7 linked regions of the Homo sapiens genome follow. The protein of the gene in region 3 interacts with the protein of the main gene of each other region in a biochemical or structural test. Each region holds a gene or a part of one and is shown on either strand. Other genes may lie near its edges. The genes, in order: LIN7A, FRMPD2, UNC93A, PDZRN4, PDZD2, TAMALIN and CARD11.

Region 1 (4,251 bases), on a different chromosome or scaffold from region 3:
TGTGGTGGCTCATGCCTGTACTCCCAGCAGCTTGAGAGGCTGAGGGAGGTGGATCGCTTGAGGTCAGGAGTTCAAGACCAGCCTGGCCAACATAGTGAAACGCCATCTCTACTAAAAATATAAAATTAGCCGGGCGTGGTGTTGCACACCTTTAATCCCAGCTACTCGAGAGGCTGAGGCAGGAGAATCTCTTGAACCCAGGAGGCGGAGGTGGTGGTGAGCCCAGATCAGGCCACTGCACACCAGCCTGGCCAACAAGAGTGAAACTCTGTCTCAAAAAAACAAAAAAGGGCAAATAAACCAGAAAAAAAACCCTTTTGCACTAAGTATATGACAGTCACATACTGAAACTGTTTTTCTGGTTTGCCTTTTTTTTTTTTTTTTTTTTTTTTTACAGTGTTTGAGACATAGAAACTTACACTGTGCACATCTGATTTCGTGGTTATTTTTCCTGTGGCATTTTAAATTAAGAATTCCTTTTCTATTGAAAAATGATTAATGTTCACCTTTCTTTTATTTTAGTTACTTTATGTTTTTATGTTACATTTAAATTTTAATTAATCTGTTATATTTAGCATAGTGTATGAGATTGAGTCTCCATTATTTTGTATTATTTAATTTAGTTAATAGTCCTTTTCTCCTTTGGTCTAAAGTCCACATTAATAATAAATAAAGCTTTCCATGTGATGACTCTCCTTCTGGACTCTGTGCTATGTTCTACTATCTCTTTTATACACACAATAAGACACCACTTTAATCATTGTAGATTCTTAATAAATTTTAATATCTGATACAGAAATTTTCTCTTTGTTACTATGTTTTAATTTTTTTCAAAATTTTGTTGACTAGTGCATTTACTCTTCCAGATAAAATTTGGAAATTTCATTCCTAATGTTAGCATTATAATTTAGGTCTTCATTGCTTTTCACCCTTATGACCTGAATCCCCACACAGTCCATTCTGTGACCTAGTGCAGCCTAACCTGCTTATAGTTTAACCACAATGTAATAAATAATAACGATGATGGTAAGATAACTCATTTGCCATGTTTTCTTAAAATTTTAAATTTTGGGTTCTTAATGTGATATTAATTTCAGATTTGTCTCCAGGGAAAAGAACATTGAACCTCCTCCCTTTAAGAAGTGTCATTGTATTTTCAGAGTGTGGAAGGAGAACACCATGAGAAAGCTGTGGAACTACTCAAGGCTGCTAAAGACAGCGTCAAGCTGGTGGTGCGATACACCCCAAAAGTTCTGGAAGAAATGGAGGCTCGCTTTGAAAAGCTACGAACAGCCAGGCGTCGGCAGCAGCAGCAATTGCTAATTCAGCAGCAGCAACAGCAGCAGCAGCAACAAACACAACAAAACCACATGTCATAGGTGAGAAGTGACTTATTCTATACAAGGAGTATATATATATATATACACACACACATATATGTATATATGAATATACTTAAAATATATTTTAGATATGTTCTAAAATATATTTTCTTAGCTGAAACAAAATCATTAGATTTAAATAATCCAAACAAAATCAATCAAACAAAAGACAGTGATCTAAAAGTATATAAGCAAGATAGTTTATGTGCCATTCAGCTATATTCTCCACAAATATAAGATAATTTGGAAAATGATATACTTTGAAAGGGGCAAGTACAGGCTCTAGGATGCTTTTATACAAATTAAGAAAATGCAGCCTCTGTGCAAACCCAGATCCTAAGGAGAAGAGTGTGGGCTGGATTCCAGGCCTCACTCACCCTGTTGGCCAGTTGCCTTTACACAGTGTATTAACTGCACAACCTTATAGTGCTGACCCTGGAAAGATCTCCTTTAGAATACTGAGATACAATTTATTGGAAAAGTGCCCCACTGAAAAGAATGAAGCTGAGACCTGCCACTGTCTATGCTGTAAGAGATTCTGAAGTTCTCTGCGGATGCTCCTTTAAAGTGTGTCTAACATACAAATGGCCAACAGCTATATGAAAAAATGCTCAACATCTCTAATCATCAGAGAAATGCAAATTAAAACCACAATGAGATATCACCTCATACCTTTTAATTTGGCTATTATCAAAAAGAGGAAAGATAACAAGTGCTAGTGAGGATGTGAAGAAAAGGGAACCCTTGTACACCGTTGGTGGGAATATAAATTGCTACAGCCAATTTGACAGACAATATGGAGGTTCCTCAAAAAAGTTCATAGAATTCCATATGATCCAGCAATTCTGCTTCTGGGGAGATATTCAAAGGAATTGAAATCAATATGTCAAAGAGATGTTTACACTCCCATGTTCAATACAGCATTATTACAACAGCTAAGATATGAAAACAACTGAAGTGCTATCAAGGGATGAATACATTTTTTAAATGTGGTAAGTATGTGATAGATATCTATATCTACCTACACACACACACACACACACACACACACACACACACACACACACAGATGTATACCATTTAATATTTAGCCTTTAAAAAGCAGGAAATGTCATTTTTGTCAGCGTGGATGGGCCTAGAGAACATCATGCTAAGTGAAATAAGCCAAGCATGGGCAGACAAATACCACATGATCTCACCTATGTGTGGAATCTGAAAAACTTTAATTCATAGAAGTAGAGAGTAGAATGTGGTTTCCAGAGGCTGGGAGGCTGGGGGAGGAGGGTAGACAGAGAAAAGGGAAAAGGTCTTAGCTAAAGGTTACAAGTTTCAGTTAGGTAGAAGGGGAATAAGTTAAGATGATCTATTATACAACTTGGTAACTATAGTTAATAATACTACATTGCATATTTCAAAATAGCTGAGAGAATGGACTGTAAATATTCTCACCACAAAGAAACAATAAGTATTTGTGGTAACAACTTTGGTAGCCTGATTTGATCATTCCACAATGTATACATGCATTGAAATATCGCATTATAATCCATAAATATATAAAATTATTACTTGTCAATGAAAAATAAAACTTTAAGAGTTTTGAAAAAGTTGTAAAGTAGAAATAAAATGTGTCTAAGATTCTCCTGCCTTTTTCTAAATTCCACTTTGTAACAAAGAACACTAAATCAGGTTTTGCTGTATATTATCAAGAGAATTGAAGAAAAAATGTTAAGAGACCCCATCTTAGAAGTTCCTACTATGCCCTATGCCCTTATCACATTTTATCCCTAATCCTCAGAAAAAAACCTTCAAGGCAAGTATCAATAAATAGTTTTTTAGATGAAAATATGAAGCTAAAATAGCTTCAGTGGATTTCCCATGACTGCATTTACAGAAACATAGAATTCTTTTCCTTTTTACTCCATCAGGTTTTCATCTGCCAACATCAGATATTCTGGAGTTATATAAATTTTCCTTGCTATCCTTTGGAGAAGACAGTTCATATTGTTAGATACCTTTACACTATGATGTCTGTGAATGTGTATTTGAAGTGAACTTCAAATATTCTTGGAAAAATGATTGTGGGTAATAGTGGTTTTAGGTCATTCAACATCAGATTACTATTTGCACAAACAGAAATATTGGATATAACATGAGGCTTTTAATTGTTTGTGACACTTGTGAAAAGAAGAAGCTACAGGCTGGGAGCAGTGTCTCATGCTTGTAATCCCAGCACTTTGGGAAGCCGAGGTGGGTGGATGACGAGGTCAGGAGTTTGAGACCAGCCTGACCAACATCGTCAAATCCCATCTCTATTAAAATTCAAAAATTAGCTCCTGTAGCCCCAGCTACTTGGGAGGCTGAGGCAGGAGAATTGCTTGAACCCAGGAGATGGAGATTGCAGTAAGCCGAGATCGAGCCATTGCACTCAAGCCTGAGCAACAAGAGTGAAACTCTGTCTCAAAAAAACCACAAAAAAAAAAAAATGAAAAGAAGAAGCTACACAGAAAAGGGGGGAAAAGATAGGGATTTGTCCTACAACAATCCTGGGAATTCAACAATCTATCTATCTTTCATAGGCTGCTATTTTTATTATATGTACCATATTTTAGTATCTTTATCTAAAATTGCATTCTATCCTAAAAAATACATTTATTGGGAGCCAAGCGTGGTGGCTCACGCCTGTAATCCCAGCACTTTGGGAGGCCGAGGCAGGTGGATCACGAGATCGGGAGATCAAGACCATCCTGGCTAACATGGTGAAACCTCGTCTCTACTAAAAATACAAAAAATTAGCCGGGCGTGGTGGCGGGCGCCTGTAGTCCCAGCTACTCAGGAGGCTGAGGCAGGAGAATGGCGTGAACCTGGGAGG
Region 2 (4,251 bases), on a different chromosome or scaffold from region 3:
GTGTGGTGGTGTATGCCTATAGTCCCAGCTACTTGGGAGGCTGAGGCATGAGAATCGCTTAAACCCCGGGGGCCGGGAGGGGAAGGTTGAAGTGAGTGGAGATCAAACCACTGCACTCCAGCCTGGGCAACAGAGCAAAACCCTGTCTCAAAAAAGAACTACATAAAAATATCCTAATATTTTACACAATTTTCAACTACAGAATAGAAGTGTTTGTGTACATTTCCATCTGATACTATAACAATTCCTTAGAGACTGGTGCCACAAGAACACCTGCTGGAGAGCCCTGCCTAGCTGACCTGGCTAGACTGGATCCCTCCCTCCTCCTCCCTTCCTTCCTGCCTTTCTTTCTACTCACCCCGACCCTCTCCAATTCAACATCCGGGCTCTTCCTGGGTGGTCTTTCTAAGAGACCAGCTCACGACCACTCTCACATGCAACCTTTTGTAACGCCTCACTGGCCGTGGGGTTGCCTTCTGACTTCTCAGTGAGACACACCTGGAGCCTAGGATAGGGTCCCTGCTCCCGTCTGGTTCCCCTTTGGCACTCTGCCATAATCAGGACCGGCTTCCTGGGTGTGTGTCCTGAGTGTGTGACCCTGTGTCATAGCACAGGGTCCTGCACTTAGTTTAATGCTCTGCTATCACTGTCCTGGAATTCTTAATAATTTTGAACAAGGGACCCCACATTGCTATTTTCCCCCAGGCCCCTGTCCTGCTCATAATCCCCTTCCCTTCAGATGCATGTCAGCTCATCTGCATCTTCGTGCCTTTGTACACACGGATCCCTTCACCAGCACCTCACTCCCCACTTTCCTCTTGGTTAACTCTAGCCTTGGCTAAGCCCCTTCCTCTACATTAGTGCCATGGCCTGTGCTTCCCAAGGTGAAAGTCCTTGTCATCCTCTATGGTCTTTGTCTCTTTTAGTGACCGTCTCTCTCATCACACCATTATTTTCCTGAAGGCAGGGACTGTATCTGGTGTGGCTGTGCAGCACCAGGCACAAAAGACGCCTGGATTTACTGTGACGGCAGGACTCAGCAGCTTGGCTGTACACAGAGATAGGTGCTCACAGCTGATGCTCCCCAGCAAGAAGCGGTAGTGCAGCCTTTATCTGGAAAGTGACCTGCAGTGTGTGTTGAGCTTGAGAAAAAGTCTGATTTTGAATCTGAATTTGAGGACTTTCTCCTATGAATTGTGGTCATTTAAATGCATGAGGGAAATGCTTATAAGATGCTTCTGTTTTCTTTTGCTCGATGTGTACACGTGACATAAAGTTCAACCAACAACGATTGAGCATTTGTGCTGACTGCTGGCTGTTCCGAAGTGAACAGGAATAGGCCACAGTCTGTATGTTCCAGGAGCTCACATTCCAGGGGAAAGGCCAAGTGAGACCCCCTGAGTGATTGGATACAATGACAAGCTACGCAGGTGAACTTGAGTGAAAGGCTGACCTCTGGTTTGATTTGGGGTGCTTGGCACAGGTGGAAATCCATCTTGTCAAAGCATCTAGTTTTCATGAGCATTCCAAGCATGTGCTTGGGCAGAAGGATGTTCTGGTTTAGAAAGCAGCAGACAACACAGAATTGCTGCAGAGATGATTGCTCCGCACTTTGCGGCCTCAGTGATGGATCTTGTGTCTGTCCTTAAACTCTCCAGAAGGGGCAGGCATCTGCTCTGGTGCTTGTGGGAACACCCGTTTCCATGTCTCCAAGGCCTGCCTGACAAGGTGCTGGCCTCGTAGTGGCAGCTCTGGCTGCTCTCTCCTCTCACCGGCCCTGTCTGCCTCCAGCCCCTGCAGCTCTGCGAGCCCCTGCACTCCATCCTGCTGACCATGTGTGAAGACCAGCCTCACAGGCGGTGCACGTTGCAGTCGGTTCTGGAAGCTTGTCGGGTTCATGAGAAAGAAGTGTCTGTCTACCCAGCCCCTGCTGGTCTCCACATCAGAAGGCTGGTTGGCTTGGTTCTGGGTACCATTTCTGAGGTCAGTAGAGAACCGTGCTTTTCAAGCAGTAGCTGCTGGTCATGTGTGGCTATTAAAATTTGAATTAGTTATATTATCATTAACTAAAATAAAATAAAAAATTAAATTAATCAGTCACATCTGTCACATTTCAAGTGCTCCGTTGCCACTCGTAGCAGGTGATGACCCTATTGAACAGGGTGGATCTAGAACATTCTTGTCATTGCAGTTCTATTGGGCAGTGCTAACAAAGACCTTTAGGCAAGCCCCAGTTTGTCACATGGCTAAGACCCTTGACATCTTTGCAAGTGCGTCCTTACATAAAGCAATAATGTTTAGAACCCATGATTCAGTTTTCTTATCAAAATTCAACTCTAGGTTCTGCACAGAAGCCTTCCCCGACTTCGTTTTTGTGGTCCCTGGGTACCCTCCCCTCTGCTATTTTATACCTGTGGGGTGTCCTTTGTTGTGCTTGTCACACTGTGCTGCTTGCTGCCCTGTGCACTCCACAGAGTGCAGCAAGGGGCCTGGCACATGGGAGGCATTTGGCTTAGGTTGGATTCCCTCCAAGCTAACCCAGAGACAGGGATTCTTGTGCAAGTTATTTACTGGGGAAATGTTCCTGGGAGAGGGGAGTGATGGTAGTACAGCTGACAAGTTGAAGGATATAGTCTCAGCTGGAGACAGGCCCAGCCTGGCCCCCTGGGGAGCTCTGTTGCAGGAATGGCACCATGGAGTTGGTCCCCCATGAGACCTGAGTGGAGCTGGGATAGGATGGGCAAGTGAGGTGCCTATGGCACAAAATGTAAGGAAGTTTGTATTTGGGAGGAACCAGAGACAGGTAAGCTAGAGGCCAGTTGAGTGGCTGCACTTGTCCAGGGACAAGTTGGAGAGCTGAGAGCAGGATTAATGAGGGCCAAAGTGGATGGAGATGTGGGGACAGCAGGGTGGACAGCGGCAACAGTCAATCAGAGAAGGCCTCTGCCATCAGAGAAGGCCTCCTTCTTGGACCCCTTCTCTCTTGGCATAGGAACATGTGGCTCCTATGAATTGAGCCAGAGGATTTGGTGGGGGAAATGGACTATATTTATTTGAAAGATACTGAGGTCTACCATCCACTGGTGTGCCATTGTCCTTGGATAGACAGTGTACTGACCTGCAACATTTCCGTCAGGGATCTGCAAGGTAGATGTCAGTCACGTATTCAACATTCATTGGGCACTGCATTAGGTGTGCTACGGTGGTGCATAAAGCACACAGAGATGTTGGGGGAGACAGACAAGCAGCACACTCATGGAACATGATGCAACAGAGCCAGGTGTGAGTGCAGTGATAAGGGAAGGTGATCAGACGGCAGAGGTAGAGAGGCTTAGAAGTAGAAAGCACACAGCTCTGGGTCTTGTGGGCACAGAGGAGCTTCTGGGGAGGCTGTAGCCATGGAGGGAATGCATGAGCAAAGGCACAGATGTGTGTGAGTGTGCAGGTCTGGAGTGGGGAGTGAAGTGCCTTCAGGGTGCATGCAGGGGGTGGGCACAGAGCACATTCTGGGTGCCAGAGAACACATCTTTAGGTCACCGTATAGGGCAGACAATTCCACATTGATTCAGTCTGACAGCCAGTTTGCATGTATCTATAAAAACGCCCCCTCCTTATCTTGGGATGTGGATGTGTGATGCACTTGACCCCCAGGTGGAGAAAAGAGTTGTGGAGGAAAGCTCCTCTGTGCAGCAGAACAGAAGCTACCTGCTCAGGAAGAGGCTGCGTGGGACAAGCAGCGAGAGCCCAGCGGCACAGGCCCCGGAGTGTCTGCATCCTTGCAGAGGTGGGTACGTGCCCTAAGCAGTCCCTGCGTGGGCTGATGGTACCCATTCTATTTTTTCCTGCCCTGTATGGGCTACACATCCACATTGTGATGGCAGAGAAAGCCTATGTAAGTGCCACTCTTTCAGGAAGCCCCTGAAGAGAAGGGGCTGAGCTTAGGACTCACCTGTGTTCCCAGGAAAGTCTTATTTGGGGACACAACACAGTTATTTATATCAAATGAAAACTTTAAAAATGAGTTCTAACTGTCCAAGTTGAGAAAATCCAAATTGAAACAAACAACAAGAAAAGAAAAACTTGATTTTTTTTTCAGTTATTGTTCTGGGTGTGTTAAAAGAGTGGTTTTTGGAATAATCTTCAAATCTACTGTTCTCTACTTTTCAACTAAATCTGAGCTTTTTTTAAAAAAATTAATGTTATTGTTTGTTGTCTCTAAAACAAAGTGCACTTTGCCATTAGGCTTTATCT
Region 3 (4,251 bases):
GTAAACATGCAGAGCCTTCCAAGGAGCCCACGGGACGATGGGAGGTGGCAGTGTGAGCCACAAGCCACACACATCACAGGTCACTAGGGTCAGTGTCTGTGGACGGGGCTCTGGGGCATCCTGGGCAGTGGTGGGTTTTCTGGGAGCAGCAGGTGGGGGCCCTGTGGATGTGGGGGAGCAGGGGAGGCCAGGGTGGGCTTCCTCCTAGAGGCTACATCTGCATCACGTATGGGCTGACCACTGTCCAGGTGGGGTGGGGTGCAGGAGGAACCAGGGCAGGAGGTGGCAGGGATGCTCCAAGGCCTTGCTGGGGCTGGGGCCCCTAAGAAGGCGGCCTGGGGGGAGTGCAGAGGAGTGGGGTGGAGTGGCAAGTCGGGTCCCCAAGTGTGGGGCCAGCATGTGGGGGAGGGTCAGATGCACCTAGGTCACTGGAAGCAGCAGAAAGCGCTGACACCCAGGAGTGACTGGGAGCTATGTGGAGTCGGCCCCGTGTCACAACAATCAATTCCAAAAGGCAGGTGACAAGGTCCAAGGTGCGGCCCTGTGGGGAGCCGGGAGGGCTGGTTGTCGGATAGAAGGTGACATCCCATGATGATGGCAGGAGCCAAATGCCAAAGTCCTCACAGAATAGGGTGGCCTGGCCAGGAGGTCAGGCAGGGCAGTGAGGACACGGATGGGAGATGAGCGGGAGCCAAGGAGCCAAGCAGGAGCCAGGGAGGAAGGGGCCCCAGGCTCAGGCAGCTGCACTAGAGAGGCCTGAGGGCAAGAGAGCTGGAAGGGGACATGGCCGTTGCACCTGTAATCCCAGCTACTCGGGAGGCTGAGGCAGGAGAATCACTTGAACTCCGGAGGCAGAGGTCATAGTTAGCCGAGATCGCACCACTGCACTCATGCCAGGCTCTGCTGAGCTCCGAGGTGCTTTGTGCGGGCTGGCTGTGTTTTCCACAAGGAGATGCGTGAGAGCGTTTTGGAGGAAGGTCACTAGGAAGAGAAGGAAGCTGGGGCAGTGTGTGTGGCCGCTTGCCGGAGGGTGTGCGTACTGGGTGGTGTTGAAAATGACACAGATGAGGACTTAGGGTAGGAACCCTGAATTTCCCAAAAAACCCCATCTAAGGCCCCGAGGGGTGTCAGAGGCCCAAAGAGGCAAGACTGCGTGTCTAAGAGATGCTGATGAGGTGAGATGAAGTGTCCTCTCGGAGGTGAGCATGGCTCACATGAGACCCTCTTCCCTTCAGGAGAGACTTCACCATTCTGCCTTTATCTGGGAAACACTCGGGGCTTAGAAAATGGAAAAAGCAAACCCACAAACGAACTACAGGCCAATGTTTCTGAGATGACAGACCTGGCTGCTGTCCCTGCACTGAGGATAAAGAGCACATGTGACCTCAGATCGCGGACAGAACACTCCAGCCACGTCCTTTCTTGTCTTCCTGGTGGGTTGCGTATCCACAGGACAGCTGAAAATCACCTTTGAACAAACCCACACTGTTGGATTTAAGGAGCCGTGTTTCACAGTCCTTTCTGCTGCCCCAGTAATGCAGGTGGACCTAGTGAAGCTCTTCACCAAAATGCGTGTGTACTTGGCCCAGCGCCACACTCTGGCTTGTTGGGATCAAGGCCTGGAGGCTGGAAGGGGTAGACTGGACCCGAGGCCAGGCCGGGGCATTGCTTAACAGAACAAATACTGATTTAATGGAGGGGAGACAAACAGCAACTCACTTTGGTGTTCTTGGCAGTGCAGAATTATAAGCTAGTGGCATGTCACCTCGCTGCAGGACTCTTAGCTACGTTACCAATAAGCATCAAACAGTATTTGTTTAAACTGTCCCCTGGATGTGTGGCAGAGCCGGTGTTTCACTGAGCTCCCCAAATGCACATCCCATTACCAGAAGTGCACCATGACTTATCTGAACTTACATGAATTTTAAAATGTATTTACACATTAAATGAAAAGGAGAACACTGGGACAAATATCCCCACAATATTCCATACGATAATTCCCTAAATGCTCCCAATGAATGTGATCATTCATATTTGGTTTTTGTTCTTCCTGAGCTATGTGAACAGTGGACTTAACTCTCCTTTTCCTTATATGGACACATGATACTCTCAGGGAAAGCCTTGTTGAATTGTGCAAACAAAGTTACCTAAGGTCAAACAAAGAGTATCAACGTCCAAGTCCGGTGAATGACTGGAATAAAGACTCCCTTTAATAAGGGATGCTAATTTAAATTGAAACTGTTTCTGTCTTTCTGTACAGGAAAAAGTAATTTTTTTCAAAAATAAACCAAACTGGCCGGGTGCGGTGTCTCACCCCTGTAATCCCACCACTTTGGGAGGATGAACCAGACAGATCACTTAAGCTCAGGAGTTCAAGACCAGCCTGGCCAACATGGTAAAACCTCATCTCTACTAAAAATACAAAAATTAGCCAGGCGTGATGGCACATGCCTGTAGTCTCAGCTACGAGGGAGGCTGAAGCTGGAGGATCACATGAACCTGGGAGGCAGAGGTTGCAGTGAGCTGAGATCACGTCATTGCACTGCAGCCTGGGCGACAGAGCAAGACTCTGTCTCACAAAAAAAATGTTGGGGAAAATATTTTCATATACTTGAGAAGCTCCTGTGGACTTTATACTCGCAATCGTCATGCGTGAGTGGCATTTTAGTGCCGCGTTCCTGCACTCCTGGCAGGCTGGCTCTCCATGCAGCACAGCACACACACAAGGTCTCTGTTCTCTATTTTTTGAAAAAACTGGAAATTTTATGTAGCTTTGGCTACATCTCAAGAACAGCTCTCTTCATTTTTGTTTTTCTAAGTAGCAAGTTAGATTTCTAATCCTATTCTCCCCAAATGTATGCTTTCCTTTAAGAACATATGTGGACCACGTATGTTCTTAATTAACGACACCGAATAAAACCCAATGCACTTTGTCCTCACCTTTCAGTCATCACTGCTCAATTTAAAGACTGGTCCTTACAGTCTCCCACTTAGAAGCAGGTCAGAAGACTTCACCATTTGAGCCCCTCCTTCCTGGGCCAGAATTGAGGATCCCTGGCTCACTGTCCCACTGGGCTCCAGCCATCCCCTGGCCTCTGCAAGGGGAGATCTGTGCCAGGCACTCCTCTCTGCTTATTCCCTCAGACAGCTAATGAAAGATGGGTGCAGTTGCCATGGCAACCCTTCCCCGCCAATGCGCTGCCATGAAGATACAGAATGTCTAGTCTAAAAATACTCTTTTGCTCTGTTGGCTGTTTTCAGGGTGATAAACTCAGAAAATCTCACTTCTTCAGTGCCCTATTCACTTAACCTGTCTTCTCTGACTAAACAAGATTGCTGGACTTCTCATCCACATCCTGGTCTCTTTAACCCTGGGCCACCTGGGAAGAGGAGGCAGACAGGCCAGGCTGAGAGCAATGCTTTGTCTTTCTAAATACAGCTTTTATTTTGAAATAGTTTTAGATTTACAGAAAAGTTGCAAATGTAGTACAGAGAGTCCCCTTGAAAGGTACCAACCTATAGATCCAATGCATTTACCCCGTAGGCCCTGTGCCAGCTTCCCCAAATGCTGAGCATCTCACAGAGCCACGGCACATTCGTACAGCTAGGAAGTAACGCTGCCATGTGACAGTTAGTGGGGGGACAGCCTTTATTTGGGTTCCTCCAGGCTTCCCACGAGGGTTCTTTTTTCTGTGCCAGGATCCTGTCCTGGATTCCCTGTTGGACTCAGTCATCGTATCTTCTGGCTGCTCTGTGACAGCTTTTCATTTTCCTTGTTTTTCATGACCTGGACCCTTTTGAAGAGCACCGTAGTCTGTAGGCTGTTCCTTAATTTTGGTTTGTTTGCTGTTTTCTCATGATTAGGCTGGGGCTGTGGGTTTGCGGAGGACAGCTCCCTGGTGAGGCACTTTCTTGTCCCGTCATATGGGGGATACAGGACAGGGACAGGCCTCCTCACCAGCGATGTTAACCTTGATCCCGTTGGCTCCGTGGTGCCGGCCACATCTCTCCACTGCAAACCCACTGCCTTCCCTTTCCACACGCGGTTCTGCGGGAGCGAGTGCCCAGGGAGCCAGCAGTCAAGAAGACAGCAGCTAATCTCCACCCTGAGGAATGTCTATGTGTACTCTGTAATTCTTCCATAAAAAACGCCTGTCCCTTCTCCCCGATGTATTTATTACTCAATCATTGATCTGCATCAGCATGGGCTCGTATATTTACTCTACACTTTGGGTCACCATCCAACACCAC
Region 4 (3,714 bases), on a different chromosome or scaffold from region 3:
AAGCTTTCATCTGTACGTCCTACTCCACTGTCCTTCTCATGGTTGTTGGATGAGGATGTTGCAGTGTCTGTTGTGCCTTCTTCTTCTTCTTGCTTTTTTGGCTAAGAAAATGATGTTGAAAGAACAAAGAAAATTAATGATTTTGGAAGACATTTGTTATTAAAAATCTTGTTTGAAAACCAATGTTTCCTGGCAAAGTTGCATCTCCTAGACAGTTGCTCTAATTTAGGGTCCATCACAATTTTAGAAATAAAGGAAATTAGCTCATGGCAGCTTTTTATACAATGAAATGAAGAAAACAAAACCCGCTTGAATATGGCTATGATATTCACATGGATATAAATAAGACAGAATGCATTCAAATAAGTGATTCTTTAGGTTTTCTCTTACTTGGGAAACTCGGGGTTGAAGGTGTATAAACAAAGTGACTGTATGAATTTCTGAGGTGATAATATGCAAAAGAATAAGACAGAATGTCTAAATAGTCTTCAGCAATATGGAGACCTGATGTTCAGAAGCCACAATCACCTTATGTTTTTCCCCTTAAGTACAGAGGAAACTTCACTGGCTTAGTAATATGCTGACAATGGGTAAGCCAAACATCACAGAGTTTTAGGACTAAGTTAACATTATGTACTGGAGCCTAGGACATTGCTATCTATAGGTGAGGATGCTCAATTCCAAAAGGATTCAGGTTATTAGTGGCAGATTCAGGTTATTAATGACAGATGGAGGCAAAGCTTCATCTTCCAGTGCCAGAATTTCTTATATGTCCAGGATGCCATATTCCTGAATACATGTGCTCTGACCTCAGTGCACTCTAAATCATGTTTCTCAAAAGCAACAACAATGTTTTAGGACTCATTGGGGTTGTATAAGATTTTTCTACTCTTAACCAGGGATTTTTTTTCAAAGATAAATTTTAGTCTATTGAGAATAAAAATTCAGTCCCATGAAAATTTGAACAGCACTGATTGCCAGACATGGGCATAATATCAAAAAAATTTTGACACTTATGTCACATATATGTATATAGGCATGCATGTATGTTTATGTAGTGTGTGTGTGTGTGTGTGTGTGTGTGTGTGAGAGAGAGAGAGAGAGAGAGAGAGAGAGAGAGAGAGAGAGACTCTGGTAATTTTTGGCTTTCATGTAAAACAATTAACTGTAACTGTCCTAATAAGATGCATGTGTAGTTCTTTCTCTGTGAATATGGTAAAGTTACTTTCACCTCTATCAGTCATCATATGATAATCTATAAGGCAGTTTCTAGGTTATATCTGCCTTATGCCTAAGTTTATTCACTATATATATATATAGATAGATAGATAGGTATAGATATAGCTCCATCCCTCTAGAAGATGTAATTACACAATTAAATATAATCAAGCCAACAGCTAGTGCTAAAGAAGGATAGAACGGGTGACAAAAGATATTCTAAAAGAAGTCTAAAAAGGTCTCTCTAGATAATTGTTATTTTGTTCCACAAAAGTAGTGGCAGGATAAAAAGTAACAATATCAAGAGGAGAGAACATAACCATGTATCAGCTTTTCTATGACTCTCAATCTTTCTTTCCCTGGAACATGTTCCTTCATTTGTTGAAAACATACTGAGATTTATCTTAAATGTCTTATTGATTAAAAAATTATAATAAGTAACTGTAACGAACAATGGGAAGCTTGCTGCATCCCTAGGCTGTGACTTATAAGGTGACAATAGTATTTAATATGGCAATGTCTTTATACTACACCATATAACTCTCAAAGAATGTTATTGATACTGGGCATTTGAATTTATATATCGTGTTATTTATAATTATATTTTTCTAATATCTTGTCATGAGCTGAAAAATACAAGAAGACTAGTAATTTTTTTCTTATTTTACATGCAGATGACATAATAATGACAAATTATGCTATGGGAGATGTTGCACAATGTAACGGCATTCATAAGACCAAACATACTGTGTAAAATGAAACTTTCCATAAAGTAGGTTCACATATGGGTAGGTATTTTATTTTTTCAATTGAATATCCCCTTTCCCTTGTTATTGGTCTATGAACAACTGTGAAAATAAAATAGTTTTCTATTCTCAAACCTAGAATTCCTAGTTTCTAATGCAATGCTACTCTATCATTTATCATTTCCCTATGGAATTATTATAGTGACAGGCAATGTTTCTACCTAGACATTTCTAATGTAGTATTATTGTTTATAAGGGCAAAGGACTTTTAAAGGTTTCTGTACTTCTCACCATTTTTTAGTCTCATGGTGAAGAAAAAAATTCCACACAATGAGAATCTAACCTCAGAGGCATCTAGTGTTACCTCACGAGACCTAACATTTGTATTACCTCTGATGAGTAGGCAGCGTTTGACACCGTTGTCACTTTACCTGGACAGGATTTCTCCCTGCTTTCCTTATTCCAACATCCTCCTATCAATTCAGTATCAGGTCACATTTTGTATCTAAGAAAAAAAAAGCCTGGAGCAAGGACTTTCTTGCTTGTAACCAGCAGCTGCCACCAAAAATATCTTTATTTTTGGCCAGTGTTGAAGTTATACATAAAAATTTTAATCTGCCCTACCTATATTGAAAGACAGTCACCACAGTAGCGATATTACTTGTGAGCATGAAATTCTGTTTGTGGAGTGGCCAAACTCCACATAATGAGCACATGAGTATATCACATATGACTATGTTGATGCTATAGTGTGCAATCTAATTATTTATTTAATATGTGGACATGTGCACACACATACACATTTCTGTTATGGGATGTTAGCAAGCTGAATATTTCATTATTCAACATGGTAAAGTGATAGAATGTTTGTGCTGCAAGTTTCTAAGCCTGTCAAGATTTTCAAAAAAATTATCATCTTTTAAGATGTGTTAAGAATTAATGTTGAGGCCAGGTGCAGTGGCTCATGCCTGCAATCCCAACACTTTAGGAGGCTGAGGCTGGTGGAGCACTTGAGGTCAGGAGTTCGAGGCCAGCCTGGTCAACATGGTGAAACCCCATCTCTACTAAAAATACAAAAATTAGCTGGGTGTGGTGGTGGGATCCTGTAATCCCAGCACTTTAAGAAGCTGAGGCTGGTGGACCACTTGAGGTCAGGAGTTCGAGAACAGCCTGATCAACATGGTGAAACCTCATCTGTACTAAAAATACAAAAATTAGCTGAGCATGATGGCGTGCACTTATAGTCCCAGCTACTCAGGAGGCTGAGGCAGGAGAATCGCTTGAGCCCAGGAGGCAGAGGTTGCAGTGAGCTGAGATTGTGTCACTGCACTCCAGCCTGGGCGACAGAGTGAGACTCTATCTTAAAATAATAATAATAATAATGATAATAATAAGAATAGACAGGGCACGGTGGCTCATGCCTGTAATCCCAGAACTTTGGGAGGCCGAGGCAGGTGGATCACGAGGTCAGAGTTTAAGACCAGTCTGACCAACATGGTGAAACCCTGTCTCTATTAAAAATACAAAAATTAGCTGGGCATGGTGGTGGGCATCTGTAATCCCAGCTACTCAGGAGGCTGAGGCAGGAGAATCAATTGAACCCGGGAGGCGGAGGTTCCAGTGAGCTGAGATTGTGCCACTGCACTCCAGCCTGAGCGACAGAGCAAGATTCCGTATATATATATATAATAAAATACATATAATAATGTTGAGAATAGGAAGATAATTAAACAAATCAGTAAACTGAAAA
Region 5 (4,251 bases), on a different chromosome or scaffold from region 3:
ACATCCTTCAGATCTGCCTCCAGCAAAGCAAGAATATGACGTCCTGGACAACTTCTCAGCCTTTGTCTCTAGCATCTGGCCACAAATCTGTGAAAACTGCTATGGAAATGGATAGAGAAGAAGAAAATTGTCAGTCCCACAGACTAGCGCTTTAGATGCTCTCGTGTGCAAGCCTGTGGTTTTGTTCTTGGGGAAAGCCATTCAAGTATTTCTGAGTATGATACGGCAGATCCCACCTTTGGAAACTAGTGAGACTAAAGATGTCATTATCTGGCCGGGCATGGTGGCTCATGCTTGTAATCCCGGCACTTTGGGAGGCTAAGGCAGGCGAATCACTTGAGGTCAGGATTCACCTTATCTCGTATTTCATATTTACAAATTTCATGAGTACAGGTTTTCTGTTCATTTTGTTTTCCTGTGTCTTTAAGCTCAAGCATTAGAAAACAATATAGCAAGACTGATTTCTTTGAGTAAGGTTATTACAGAACAAGCATTTGAATAATAAAGAATTTTTTTTTTTTTAACAGGGTCTAGCTCTGTCACCCAGGCTGGAGTGCAGTGTCACAATCTCTGCTCACTGCAATCTCTGCCTCCCAGGTTCAAGTGAATCTGGTGTCTCAGCCTCCTAAGCAGCCCAAGGTGGGTGGACCACCTGAGGTCAGGAGTTAGAGACCAGCCTGGCCAACATGGTGAAACCCCGTCTCTACTAAAAATATGTTAGCTGGGCATTGTGGTGCATGCCTGTAATCCCAGCTACTCAGGAGGCTGAGGCAGGAGAGTCACTTGAACCCAGGAGGCGGAGGTTGCAGTGAGCCAGGACCACACCACTGCACTCCAGCCTGGGGTCAGAGAAGGCTCCATCTAAAAAAAAAAAAAAAAAAAAAAAAAAAAAACATATAAAATGTTCATTATATGGCAAAATTTATAAGCAAATTCAAAAGTAAGTGATTAGAAGATATTTACAATATATTTAATAAACAAAGGGTTGATATCCAGAATAGGCAGGGTACCGTGGCTCACACCTGTAATCCCAGCACTTTGGAGACCAAGGTGGGCAGATCACTTGAGCCCAGGAGTTCAAGACCGGTCTGGGCCACATGACGAGACTCCACCTCTACAAAAAATACAGAAATTACTCGGGTGTGGCGGCACGCACCTATAGTCCCAGCTACTCAGGAGCTGAGGTGGGAGAATCATTTGAGCCCAGGAGGTCGAGGCTGTGGTGAGCCATGGTTGTGCCACAGCACTCCAGCCTGGGTGACAGAGGGAGACCTTGTCTCAAAAAAAAACAATCAATCAATCAATCAATCAATCCAGAATATATGAAGAACTATATAATTCAGTAAGAAAAATACAAGAGAGAAAGTTTGGGTAAAGAAAGCAATAGCAAATGGACAGAAGTTAAAACCTAGGTGGCCAAGAAACACAGGAAGATGCTCAAACTTAAATGTATTGGATGAAAATTAGAAATATTATAAATCATTCTTTTAATCTATCAAGTTGGCCAAAAATAAAAAATCTCATACTATGATGTGTTGGCAAGGATGTGGAGAAAGGAAAACACATTTTTTTTCTCGTGCAAGTATCTACTGGTTAATCTTTAAGGAAAATTTTAGCAGTGCTTACGAAAATGGAAGCTATGAAACAATTTAAATTTCTATCTGTAGCAGAATAAAATATATTCATCTAAAGGAAAGCTAAATAGCAGTTGAAAAAATAAATTACACCTCTCTCTATATACTAACTGGGACCGGCTCAAAAACAGTGTTGAATGAAAAAAAGCCAAATGCAGATTGTGCACTGTGTGACACCAATTCATGGTAAGCATAAGGAACCTAAGAATGTGTTCAACAAAAGCTATGCAAGACCTTTTTGGGAAAAAGCATAAAAGCTTTCTAAAGGACAATTTTAAAAAATCTATGAGTAAATGGAGAGAGAGACATATCCTGCTCAAATCTGTTAAGATTCAGTTTGGCCTCATGTAATAGGAAATCCAAAATAGCAGTGGTTTAAACGAGAGAATTTATTTCTCTCTTGTGTAAAAAGTCCAAAAGCTGGCAAACCTCTGCTTTGTACAACACTGAATGTTTCCTAAAGGAGCAGTCCCCAAGCTTTTTGGCACCAGGGACTGGTTTTGTGGAAGACAATTTTTCCATGGTGAGGGTTTGGGTGGGGGATGGTTTCAGGATGATTCAGGTGCATTACATTTATTGTATACTTTATTTCTGTTATTACATTTTAATATATAATGAAATAATTATACAACTCACCATCACGTAGAATCTGTGGGAGCCCTGAGCTTGTTTTCTTGCAACCAGGCATCCCATCTGGGGGTGATGGGAGACAATGACAGATCATCAGGCATTAGATTCTCATAAGGAACATGCAACCTAGATCCCTCGCATATGCAGTTCACAATAGGGTTCACACTCACGTGAGAATCTAATGCTGCTGCTGATCTGACAGGAGGCAGAGCTCAGGTGGTAGTGTGAGTGACGGTGAGAGGCTGTGAACAGAGGAAGCTTTGCTCACTCACCCACTGCTCACCTGCTGTGCAGCCCTCCTGCCACCAGTCTGTGGCCCAAGGGTTGAGGACCCCTGTCCTAGAAGACTTTCCTCTACTTCATCTCATTCAGTCCTTCTAACAACCTAGTAAGATAACAAGACAGATATCATCATCACCATTTTGCAGATGAGAAAACTGGAGTTTGGAGAAATCTGTAACTTGCCTGAAGTCACAGATTTGAGACCAAACCCAGTCTGATTGCTCCTTCAGTGTGCGTCAGGCTGTTCTGGTTGCCTGGAACCTCCCATGTCCTGAAGCCCAGGTGAACACTCACAAAATTCTTTTGTTTCACATAACCTGAAGGCCTTCGGTTAATATGCTAGAATAGGACATTGGGTACTAAGTTAACACAAATATAATTGGTTCTTTGGTCCTTCCAAAAATGTATCTATCTCAAGAAAAGCAAGGACTAGGGACCAAATCATTTTCCTGGGGCCCACTACAGGGCTGATATTGGTGAGGTCTCTCTTCTAATGTAACTAACTGCCTCTATCATTTACCACAGAAAATGTTTTTGTCCTTGTGTGGGCTGGATTTCTTCCAAGCTGTATTTTTATCACATAATATTTATTTCAATAATTTCAATAACGACTTTCAGTAATTTAGGATGAAATCGATACATCTGCTCAGTCTTTTGAGGTCTAATCAAAATTTCTGAGAAAATTTTTTTCACACTTGGGACTTTTTCTTTCAATGCCATTTTTTTTCCATAAGATGCCTCCATAGCTGGTGTACCTTTAGAAGTATATGTGTGAGAACGTAAATGGAGGGTTTACACTTGCATTTTTTTCAAAGCTCATACAAAGCTAGACAAAGCTATAATGTGAACATGCTAAACTCTGTAAGTAAGTAGTCCCCATGGTCACTAATGAGCACATAATCACTGATTCTCAGAACTTGCATATATCAGCCAGAATCTGTTAACAATTAGAAGCTGACAGCCTGGGCAACATGGCAAGACCCCATCTCTACCAAAAATATAAAAAAAAAAGCTGTGCATGGTGGTGTATGCCTGTGGTAGCAGCTACTCTGAAGGCTGAGGTGAGAGGATCGCTTGAGCCCAGTGAGGCGGAGGCTGCAGCGAGCCAAAACTGTACCACTGCACTCCAGCCTGGGTGACAGTGTGAGGCCGTCTCAACAACAACAAAAAAAGTTGAACCTGCTTTTCTGTGTTTACTGGCTGTTTGGAGTTCAGCTGTTGATTTCCTTACCCCAACTTTATTTTGTGTTATTCTTGTTGACTTGTAGCTCTTTAGTCTGGATGTTAACCATTTGTTGATTAAATACATAGAGAGTATCTTCCCCTTGTCAGTTTATTTTTATCTTACAGATTATGTTTGGAGGGGCGGCAGGAGGGCTAGAGTTGCACTGTTTTCTGTAGACCAGTTTACTTTTATGGATATATGCTTTTTGTGTTCTAAGAAATATTTCTCTATTCAATAATATATTATTTAGATATTTTTATCACTTAAAAGTTTTTAGTTTACTTAGGATTTTTGAATACTATGAAACTGCCAAGCTATTAATTATTCTGTGTTTATTCTCGTAGGTGGTGCGGCTGAACAAGCTGGAATAATAGAAGCTGGAGATGAAATTCTTGCTATTAATGGGAAACCTCTGGTTGGGCTCATGCACTTTGATGCCTGGAATATTATGAAGTCTGTCCCAGAAGGACCTGTGCAGTT
Region 6 (4,989 bases), on a different chromosome or scaffold from region 3:
TATTGTTATTTGTTTTTATTTTTACAACTCTTTAAAAATTATTAGCTCAAGGGCCAAACAGGCCAATCTGGCTAGCAGGTCAGTTTGCTGATCCATTTTAGAGAAAGTCAAGCCCAAATCAGGGATGGGACATGAGTAGAGAAGGGAAACTGTGGGGTCCCAGGGCCTGGAGTCAGCACCTACTTCTGCCCACGCTCAGATCCCTCCTAAGAGGGCTGCCACAGGCTGGGACCAGAAGAGGACTGACATTCTGGAGGCAGGGGCAGCCAGCCCCAAGCAGCTGGACACAGCCTGGCTAAGGTCTGGGCCCGTGGGGTTTGCCAAGGCTAGGAGGGCTCAGGGGAGCCCAGGAGGCCTGGGTTAGGACGTTCCCCATAGACTTTGCCTACACCCCCTCCCAACTCCCACATCCGTTCATCCAGATCTCCCCAGGGAGGGGTAACTGGCAGGGACTGGGGGTGTGTTGAAGAGCACCTAATGACTCAAAAGTCCCTACCTCCTTTCTCTGCCACCCCCTTCACACAGCCCTCACCCCCACCTGCCCTCACTCCCAGCGGGGGAGCCATGTTTAAAGGCTAGGAGAATGACTACCCTCGCTAGGCTGAGATGCTGTCCTGGCACCCCCCAACCCAGCACCTCACCCCTTTGGACCATGGCAGGGGCTGGGTGTTGGTGACTCACCGCTGCTGTTCAGGACTCTGGCTGAGATTCTTCCAGCGGAATCCTGAGCCCTGGGCAGTAAGATGGTCAGAAGGAGCAGGTAAGGCGGGACTGTCCTTGAGCAGACACTGAGAGGTTACCCTGGACACAGCGACCCACTTCCTGTCTGCCCCTTCCCAGCTCCACATCCACACCTGTTTTGGTGCTGGTGGAACTATTTGCCAAGTGCCACTACTGGCACCACTCCTCAACTTTCTCTACAGGCCTTACCTTCATACCTGGGACTGCAGGGACACAACCATCCTCCTGGGTTCCAGATCCATGAACCTCTAAGCCCTTGCTGGTTTCCACACTGGCAGCAGGTGGGGAGATCATTATTCTAAAATGGTCTCCACCCCTAGGGCCCATGTCTGTAGAGGCTCAGGCCATCCAGACTCCCAAAGCTGAGGCAGGGGCTCTTCCCCAGTGGGATTCAGAGGATAGGTGTCCCCTGGGCTCACCTATCAAGGTGCTCCGAGGACCTTCTGCCAGTTGGGTCTCTCCATCTAATTTCTCAGCTACAGACAGTGGCTTGGGAGGGCTGGGGTCAGGGACCCTGTCCCGAAGGGCTGGCAATCCCAGCCAGAATGTGGGGTCAGAGGTGCCAGGTCTCCTAAGGTACAGGCCGTTTCAAGGACCAGTTGTGGATCCCAGCTGCAGGTGACCAGCTGTGCCCAGCTATACCTGGGTCTCTCTCTCCATTGCCATATATTTTGTGCTTTCTGGGACAAAACATCTTAGATGTCAAACTTGTCAGCAAGTCTCACTAAAGGACCGAGACTGGGAGTTCTTTAGGGGTGGTGGTGGGGGGTGTGGAGGAAGGATGAGAGATGAAGGTTCCTGTCTCTTCAGGGTCCTTGATAAACTAAAGTAGTCTCTCACCCTCCCTAACTTTTTGGTCCTGGGAGGAGGTCCAGTCCCAGAGCAGCCCTTTTCTTTGGAGCCTGCACAGCCCAGGGCCTTTCTGTTCTGTGCCTTTGCTAACCCTCCCCCAAAGCTGCCCAAGGCAAGGAAGAGAAGGTTCAGAACCAGATTGGCCTCAGGGGTGGGGACAGTTCCCAAACGGCCAGGGAGGAAGGACTGGGCAGCACAGAGAGACCCCTTTGTCTTTCAACATGATTTTCATAAAATGCAAATTCTCAACAAGCTGTTCATTGTGTGGGGGCTAGCTGGGGGCCGGGGCGAAGGAGGGCGGCTGGGTGAGGAAAGGCCACCAGGCCCCTCTTCTTAACCTGGTGTTGTGTAGGTTCTGAGCCTCAGGTCTCCTGGGGCCAGAGGAAGAGGCTGGCAGAGGGGACTCAGAGGTGGGCGCGGCCCGCATCCTTCCTGCCCCGCGGGCGCCCTGCGACCCCTCCCACTGCGTCCGGTTCCGACAGAAGTCCAGGGAGCAGTGGCCCTCGCGCCCCGTACGTCAGACGTGGGGCCAGGCGGCAGGCCCCCAGCCCAGGAATCGGGGAGTCCCCTCGGAAGGGTGTGCTATCCGGAGTCAGCGGCTCCCCACGCACTTCCTCAGAGTGAGAACGCACGCGGCGCAGCCACCGGCCCGCTTCTCCCACCGGGGGCTCTCGGACCTTCAACTTGCCTGGGGCTGTCTCTGTCCCTCGGGCGAGGGGCTCCTGGGGACCCAGGACACCTGGCCACGGGGAGGCGGGGCATGGGGGGCAGAAAGCCAGATGGAGCGGGTAGGAGAAGGGGGGTGCTGGGAGGAGTCAAGGAGGGAGAGAGGGGGCGTGCATGGGGCGCGGAGTTAAGAGCCACCGAGCCTGGGCGCGGTGTGCAGGCGAGGGCCACGGCCTTCGCAGCAGCGGGGAACGCGGGGAGTCGAGGCACCCAGCGGGCCGGGGAAGAAGGTGGGGGACTCCGCGGACGCCGAGGAGAGGGCACTGCGGAGTCAGCAGGCCCTGTAGGGAGTCGGAGAGGGGCTGAGCAGATCCTGAAGGCGGGCGGGGGACGCACCTTTCGGCGGGGCAGGGTGCCCCCGGACACGGCGAGCGCGCGGTACAGCTCGGCAGGGTGATAGTCCTCCAGCGCCGCGTACAGCTCGTCCGCTGGGGGCCCAGGGGTGGCGGCTGCGGCAGGGGGTCCCGGGGTCGGGACCGGAGCGGCGGGCGCGACTTCCGAGTCGGGAGTCCGGGCGGCGGGGTCCGGGGTGGCCGCCGCCTCCTCCTTCTGCTGCAGCTTCCTGAGTCGGCGGAGGGTCATGGCTCCGGCGCCGGACGCCCCTCAGAGACGGCGCTGGCTCCCCTCGGCGGGGCTGGCGGCGGCTGGGGGATGCCAGCCGGGCGGGCCGCGGGTCGCCTCCCTTTATAGGCTCCGAGAGCGGGGCGGGGTTGGGGGCGGGCGGGGAGCTGCCTCGGGTGGCCTCGCCCCCAGCACGGAGGACCCTCCCCGCGAGGCGCCGCCGCCCTGGAGCCCCGCCCACGGCGCTCGACGGCCGGGGAAACTGCGGGAGCTGGGCGCTCAGTGGGGGAAAACGAGCCGCGGACGCGAAGGGGCGGGATGAGGCCCCCGGGGCGGGGCTCGGGGCTCGGGGCTGCGTGATACCTGGAGGGGTCTGTGAAGGGACATTGCGCAAGGTTTGAAATTTAGGGACGAATAGCTCTGGCGATTCATGGAGTGGGGCACGGTAAGAGGTCACTGTAAGAAGCCTGGGGAGTCGGGGAGGTAGGGAGAGTCACGGAGATCCAAGGGGCTGCAGGAGACTCCAGGGCAGGGAGAGCGGCAGCGGGGCTGCGCAGGAGTAGGGGTGGAGGCCCGATGGAGGAGGGAGGAGACTCCCTGAACTCACTGCGCAGAAGCCCCCAGGGAGGGAGAGGGCCCAGGATTTTCCCTTGACGCAGCTGCCCCAGAAGAGCTGAAAGAGGCTGCCCCCTGTTCGCACGTCTAGGAAGAAGGGAAGAGGTGGAAACCCTGAAAGCAGTAGGCTTAGTTCTGGCCTGTCCCCTCCAAGGGGCTTGAGTGATCCCTGCTGGCAACACCTTTCCTCAGCTCCTGATGCCGGGGTCAGATCCCCCTTCCCAGGAGACAGACGCTTACTGTGGACTTGACTCAGGAGGTTGGGATGAGCCCAGGCTGAGTGGGAGTTCAGGGCTGGGGGGATGGCCATGCTCAGCCGTTCTCTGACCCCATCTTAGGGACCATCCCCCAGGCTGTTACCATGGCTGCCAGGCGGTAGGAGAGGCGGGAATGGCCCAGCCGAAGTCTCTGTCGTCAGTGGTGCCCGAATAAGAAGTGAGAGGAGGAAGTGGAAGGCAGCGTCTGGTGTCTAAAGAGCGGCTAGCCACCACAGGGCGTCAGCAGCACAGGCTGGGGACTCCATGTCCCAACACCCATCGGCCAAGAAGCAGAGGCGGCAATGCGGTGCCCTTGTCTGTCCCCTCCCTCCTCCCCCAGTCTTCCCAAATCTGTTATGCCTTCACAGTTAACATTTATTGAGCACTTAGCATGTGCTATGCACACTGTTTGTTCTGTGTGTCCTTTTACATACATGCATTAACTCACTTGGTCTTCATAACAACCCTACGAAATAAGCACCATTATCCTCCCTTACAGATGAGGAAACTGAGGCCCAGAGAAGATAAGTAATTTGCCCTAAGTCACTCAGCGGCAGAGCTGAGATTCAAAGCCAGGCAGCCTGGTTCCAGAGCCTGCAATCTAACCACTCTGTGATGTTGTCCAACATTTAAGCCCTGCTGTGTGCCAGGTACTGGCTGGGCACTGGGGTTACAGAGGCTCTTGGCCTGGTAGGGAGTGGTACCTTGCACATGTGCTGTGTTAGACACGTGGCATAAGGAGCACAGAGGGGCAATGGCCACGTCCACCTGCGAGGCCAGGAAAGACTTTCTGCCTCCTGCCTGTCTCAGTTCTTGCGCCTGGCTCAGTCTTCTTCTCTAGTCTCCTTGACTCTGTGTTCTCCTCCCCACCCCCAGTCCTCTAGGCCCCCATCCCCTACAAGAGGTGTGGGTGGAAGAGGGTGCTTTTCCGCCCCTCAGTGATTGCACAAGTCCAGATGGCAGGATGCTTGTTGGGTGGGGGGCCGGGGTGGATTGAGGACTGCCAGGAGCTAAGAGGTAGCTCTCTTAGTGCCTTCTTCTCCCTCCTCCCACCTCCCGCCTTGGCACCACCAAGTGGCCATCAGCTGAGGGGCCGAGGGGGTGTCAGTGGGGAAACATGGGACTCTATTGTGAAGCATTAGCACAGATGGACCCCAGGACCGTCTGTTGCCTGCTCCTGACAGACAGCATCTGTGGGGGGTGGGAGGGGGAGACGCAAAGCGGAGAGGCAATGATG
Region 7 (4,251 bases), on a different chromosome or scaffold from region 3:
CCAGATCACTCTGTGAGAATACATATCTGATGGAACGCAAGTCTCTGTGGCTGGTCTCATCCTGGACTTGTGTCCTTCAATCAACTCTAAGAAGACAGTCTCCCCACATTCTATCACTTCTGAGTTGTATCTTGGAGCCCAGATGACGTAAATCAAGGTGCCAGGCCCTCCGCAGGGATTTGGTGAGCGTTAGTTTTCTGTTTCTAATAAACTGGTAGAACCAGGATAAATGGAATTGCCGCCCCAGTTTTGAAGAGTTTCCCAACTGACCAGGGCCAAAATGAACCACGTAGGCACCAGGTCTTCTATGACTGAAGGAGGTTGGAAGCACGATAAAAATTATGGAATAATATATGGTTCTCTGGGATTGAGAGCAGGAAGACAAATCTTTGGGTGAGAGGCTAGGAAAAATCATAGGAAGTAGGGATAGTTCTAGGTTTTTCTTTGGGATTATTACACAACCTGGAAACACCTTAAATGTAATTTCCCCAGCAGGTCCCAGTTTCTATACTATTGATTCCACTTATTGCTTACATTTCTGGGCCCTTCCTTAAACATTTTATTTTCAGATATTCTTCTGAGATATAGAAGAAGAAAGGTAGGTCTTAAAACTCGACCTTTTCCCTAGGACGGACAGAAGAAATAAATTTGATGGTATGTCAACCCCGATTGTTTGGTGAAGCCGCCTGCAGTACTGTTTCGAGAAACATTCCAAAGTTACATCCAAGCTCAGTGGGAAAGCATGCTGATTACTGATGTCTGCCATGGATGCCAGAGAGTCGCAGCTGATGAGCCACTTACCACCAGCCACGCTGGGGGACAGTGATTATCAAACCTTCTAAACTGATCCATAGAAAGAAAAACATTTAACATTGTGGTCTAGTGACCATAGACAAAGATAACTCTACAAGTACATGTGTATACACATGTACATAATGTAAAATTAAAACAAGCTTCACAAACCATATTTATTACCTTTACTGAATATGATAAACCCCCCCTCCAGAAGTCAGGCTAGAAAAGCTTGTGGAACCCTTCTCGGAATATTTTTAAACAGATAAAGTACATCAGATTACAAAAGAAACCAATTATAATAAAATCCAGTTATCAAATATTAAATAAATTTGTGTTTCAGTAACATACTTCTTTATTAATGCATTAAATAACAAGACCTCTCGGCAGGTCTAATAAGTACTGTAATTTTGAAAGAGAGATGAGTGTAAGTGGCATTTTGAGAGATTTGCAGTAACTGTAGTGATAGGAAGAGATCTGTAATTTTCATTGTTGCCTAAGTCACAAGAATTACTAATCACTCCTGTAATTTGTGGCTTCCTGACATTTGCAATTGAGGGCAATGCTGAATTGCAGTTGAGGTTGGTAAAATAAAGATGGCATTTCTTCCCCCCTCCCAGTTTATGGATCCTTTGAGTTCCATACACAGACAGCTTGAGTTCTATACACAAATGAGTAGGTGATGGACTGCGGACCCCAGTTTAAAAATCCCTGACCTAGAGCAACTTCATTTTGGTACAGCTACCAAAGGGTATGTCTGGAAGTTGCCGTGTGCGGTAGCCCTCCCTCTCCCGCAAAGAGGTCCTAAGGTTACCTGCTCGGTTGATCTTGGATGGCAGCATAGGGGCATTAAGCACTTCATCTTCATCCTGCTCATCAATGACCTTACACTGACGCAGGTAGGGCGTGAGCTTGGCAGGGTTGATATAGCGGCTGAGCATGTGCCGGTTACACTCCACATTCTCCCACAAGGCGTCCTCTTCATCCTTCAGCGTCTCCATGTAGTCATCCATCTCTGGCCCTCCTCCTTTTAGACATAAACCCCAACAAGCTTAATAAAGCAGTCTCACTGGAACAGCTCTATCAACTCCTCTGGAGTGACCTCTAGAATATATTAAGTTAAAAAAAAGTCCTGTACACTAAAGTATATATAGCATTTTACCTTTTGTCTAAGAAAGGGGTTATGAATATAAAAATATATATTTCCTTATATGCTAAACATAAACAATGGAAGTTTAAGCCATCAATTTTAAAAAAGATTATTTATAGGGCAGAGAGGGAAAATCCTGCGGTTGAGTCTACCCTTTCCATCCAAGTTTTTATGTCTTACTAAAAATGTATAGTTCCCTAAACAATATATACTATTGGCTTTTGTTTTAAAATTTCACATAAATGGTGTCATACTGTACGTTTCCTTTTTCAGCATGTTTTTCTCCCTCTACATTTTTTTTTGAGATTTATCTAGATGGATACATATAGATCTAAGTCATTCGTTTTTAAAAATAGCTTTATTGTGATGTAATTCACATAGCATACAAGTTACCTTTTTAATATGTTCAATTCAATGATTTTAGTATATTCACAGAGCTGTGCAACCACCACCACAATCAATTTAAAATCATTTCCGTCATTTCAAAAAGAAGCTCCTCACCCTTTATTAGCCACTCTCAATTTCCCTCTAATCCCTGCTCCTCCAGCCCTGTGTAACCACTCGTTCACCTTCTGTCTGTATAGATTTGTCTTTTCCGTACATTTTATACAAGTGAAATCCTACAATTTATGGTCTTTCATGTCTGGCTTCTTTCACTCAGCAACTTTTCAAGGTTTGTTCCTGTTGTAGCATGTATCAGGACTTCACTTATTTTAAATTGCTCAGTGATTTTTTCATTGCATGGACATGCCCCATTTTGCTTGTCTGTTCATCCACTAATGGACATTTGAGTTATTTCTACCTTTTGTCTATTATGAACAATGCTGCTATGAACATTCATGTAAAAGTTTTTGTGTGACTGTATGTTTTTATTTCCCTTGGGTAGATACGTAAGAGTGGATTGTTAGGCCATATGGCAACTCTATATTTAACATTTTGAGGAATTGCCAAATTGTTTTCCAAAGCAGCTGCATCATTTTACATTGCCACCAACAAGCCATGAGGGTTTTAATTCCTCCATATTCTTGCTAACAACTTGTTATTGTCTGTCTTTTTTATTACAGCTCTCCTACTGAGTGTGAAGTAGCATCTCATTGTGGTTTTGATTTGCATTTCCCTAATGACTAACGATGTTGAGCATCTTTTCATGTGCATATTGGCCATTTGTGTGCATTGAGAAATGTCTATTCAAATCCTTTGCCCATTTTAAAATTGTGTTGTTTGTCTTTTTATTATTGGGTTGTAGGATTTTGTTATGTATTCTGGATGCAAGCCACTTATCAGATATATGACTTGCAAATATTTTCTCCCACTCTGTCAGTTGTCTTTTCACTTTCTTAAAAGCATTGTTTGTAGCACAAAAGTTTCAAATTTTGAGGTAGTCCAATTTATTTATTTTTTCTTTTTTTCACTTGTGCTCTTGGCATGTATCCGAAACACCATTGTCTAACTCAAGATGATGAAGACTTACTCCTGTTTTTTGCCTTTGAATATTATACCTTAGTTCTTACATTGAGGATGATCCATTTTGAGTTAATTTTTGTGTATGGTGTGAGGTAGGGGTCCAGTTGCATTCTTTTATGTGTGGATGTCCAGTTGTCCAAGCACAGTTTGTTTGAAAAGACTACTCTTTCCCCATTGAATGATCTTGCTACCCTTGTTGACAATCAACTGACCATAAAAGTAAACATTTGTTTTTGCACTATTGATTCTATTCCATTGATCTATATGTGTATCCTTATGCCAGTACTACATTGTCTTGATTACCGAAGATTTGTAGATTTGTAGTAGGCCTTGAAATTGGGAGTATGGGTCTCCCAACCTTGTTCTTTTTCAAGATTGTTTTGGCTATTAGGTGCCTTTTACCTAATTTTAGGATTAGGATGTCAATTTCTGCAAAAAAGGCAGTTGGCATTTTGGTAGTGAATCTGCTGAATATGTAGATCAATTTGGAGAGTACTGCTACCTAACAATATTAAATCTTCTGATCTATGAACAGGGGGATGTCTTTCTTTAAATCTTCTTTAATTTCTTTCAGCAATGTTTCATAGTTCTCAGTGTACAAGTCTTGCACTTCTTTTGTTAAATATATTCCTAAGTATTTCATTAATTTGATGACATTATAAATGGGAGTTTTTTTCTTAATTTCATTTGTGGGATATTCATTGCTGGTCTATAGATATATAATTTATTTTTGTATATTGACCTTGTATTCTGCAACCTTGTGAAATCATTTATTAGTTCTGTTAGTTTGTTAGAGACATCTTATGATAGCCTATATATAAGATCATGTCATTTGCAGATAAAGG

The links.
Region 1: the proteins of UNC93A (region 3) and LIN7A interact in a test that uses a peptide from one of them, tested with the Homo sapiens proteins (one large-scale study listed by IntAct).
Region 2: the proteins of UNC93A (region 3) and FRMPD2 interact in a test that uses a peptide from one of them, tested with the Homo sapiens proteins (one large-scale study listed by IntAct).
Region 4: the proteins of UNC93A (region 3) and PDZRN4 interact in a test that uses a peptide from one of them, tested with the Homo sapiens proteins (one large-scale study listed by IntAct).
Region 5: the proteins of UNC93A (region 3) and PDZD2 interact in a test that uses a peptide from one of them, tested with the Homo sapiens proteins (one large-scale study listed by IntAct).
Region 6: the proteins of UNC93A (region 3) and TAMALIN interact in a test that uses a peptide from one of them, tested with the Homo sapiens proteins (one large-scale study listed by IntAct).
Region 7: the proteins of UNC93A (region 3) and CARD11 interact in a test that uses a peptide from one of them, tested with the Homo sapiens proteins (one large-scale study listed by IntAct).

Annotation. Positions count from the first base shown.
Region 1 is NC_000012.12:80,808,593-80,812,843, reverse strand, and holds part of LIN7A (protein lin-7 homolog A), read left to right. Parts: intron 1-1,160; coding exon 1,161-1,379; intron 1,380-4,251. UniProt on the Homo sapiens protein: Plays a role in establishing and maintaining the asymmetric distribution of channels and receptors at the plasma membrane of polarized cells.
Region 2 is NC_000010.11:48,239,893-48,244,143, reverse strand, and holds part of FRMPD2 (FERM and PDZ domain-containing protein 2), read left to right. Parts: intron 1-1,791; coding exon 1,792-1,983; intron 1,984-3,651; coding exon 3,652-3,784; intron 3,785-4,251.
Region 3 is NC_000006.12:167,308,305-167,312,555, forward strand, and holds part of UNC93A (protein unc-93 homolog A), read left to right. Parts: intron 1-1,235; coding exon of another isoform or gene 1,236-1,474; exon of another isoform or gene 1,475-2,292; intron 2,293-4,251.
Region 4 is NC_000012.12:41,568,751-41,572,464, reverse strand, and holds part of PDZRN4 (PDZ domain-containing RING finger protein 4), read right to left. Parts: intron 102-3,714; coding exon 1-101.
Region 5 is NC_000005.10:32,103,854-32,108,104, forward strand, and holds part of PDZD2 (PDZ domain-containing protein 2), read left to right. Parts: exon of another isoform or gene 1-862; intron 863-2,270; exon of another isoform or gene 2,271-2,327; intron 2,328-2,434; exon of another isoform or gene 2,435-4,115; coding exon 4,116-4,251.
Region 6 is NC_000012.12:52,004,932-52,009,920, reverse strand, and holds the start of TAMALIN (protein TAMALIN), read right to left. Parts: upstream 2,976-4,989; 5' UTR 2,902-2,975; coding exon 2,656-2,901; exon of another isoform or gene 2,266-2,655; intron 2,100-2,265; exon of another isoform or gene 1,161-2,099; intron 732-1,160; coding exon 682-731; intron 1-681. UniProt on the Homo sapiens protein: Plays a role in intracellular trafficking and contributes to the macromolecular organization of group 1 metabotropic glutamate receptors (mGluRs) at synapses.
Region 7 is NC_000007.14:2,945,969-2,950,219, forward strand, and holds part of CARD11 (caspase recruitment domain-containing protein 11), read right to left. Parts: intron 1,820-4,251; coding exon 1,607-1,819; intron 1,120-1,606; exon of another isoform or gene 629-1,119; intron 1-628. UniProt on the Homo sapiens protein: Adapter protein that plays a key role in adaptive immune response by transducing the activation of NF-kappa-B downstream of T-cell receptor (TCR) and B-cell receptor (BCR) engagement.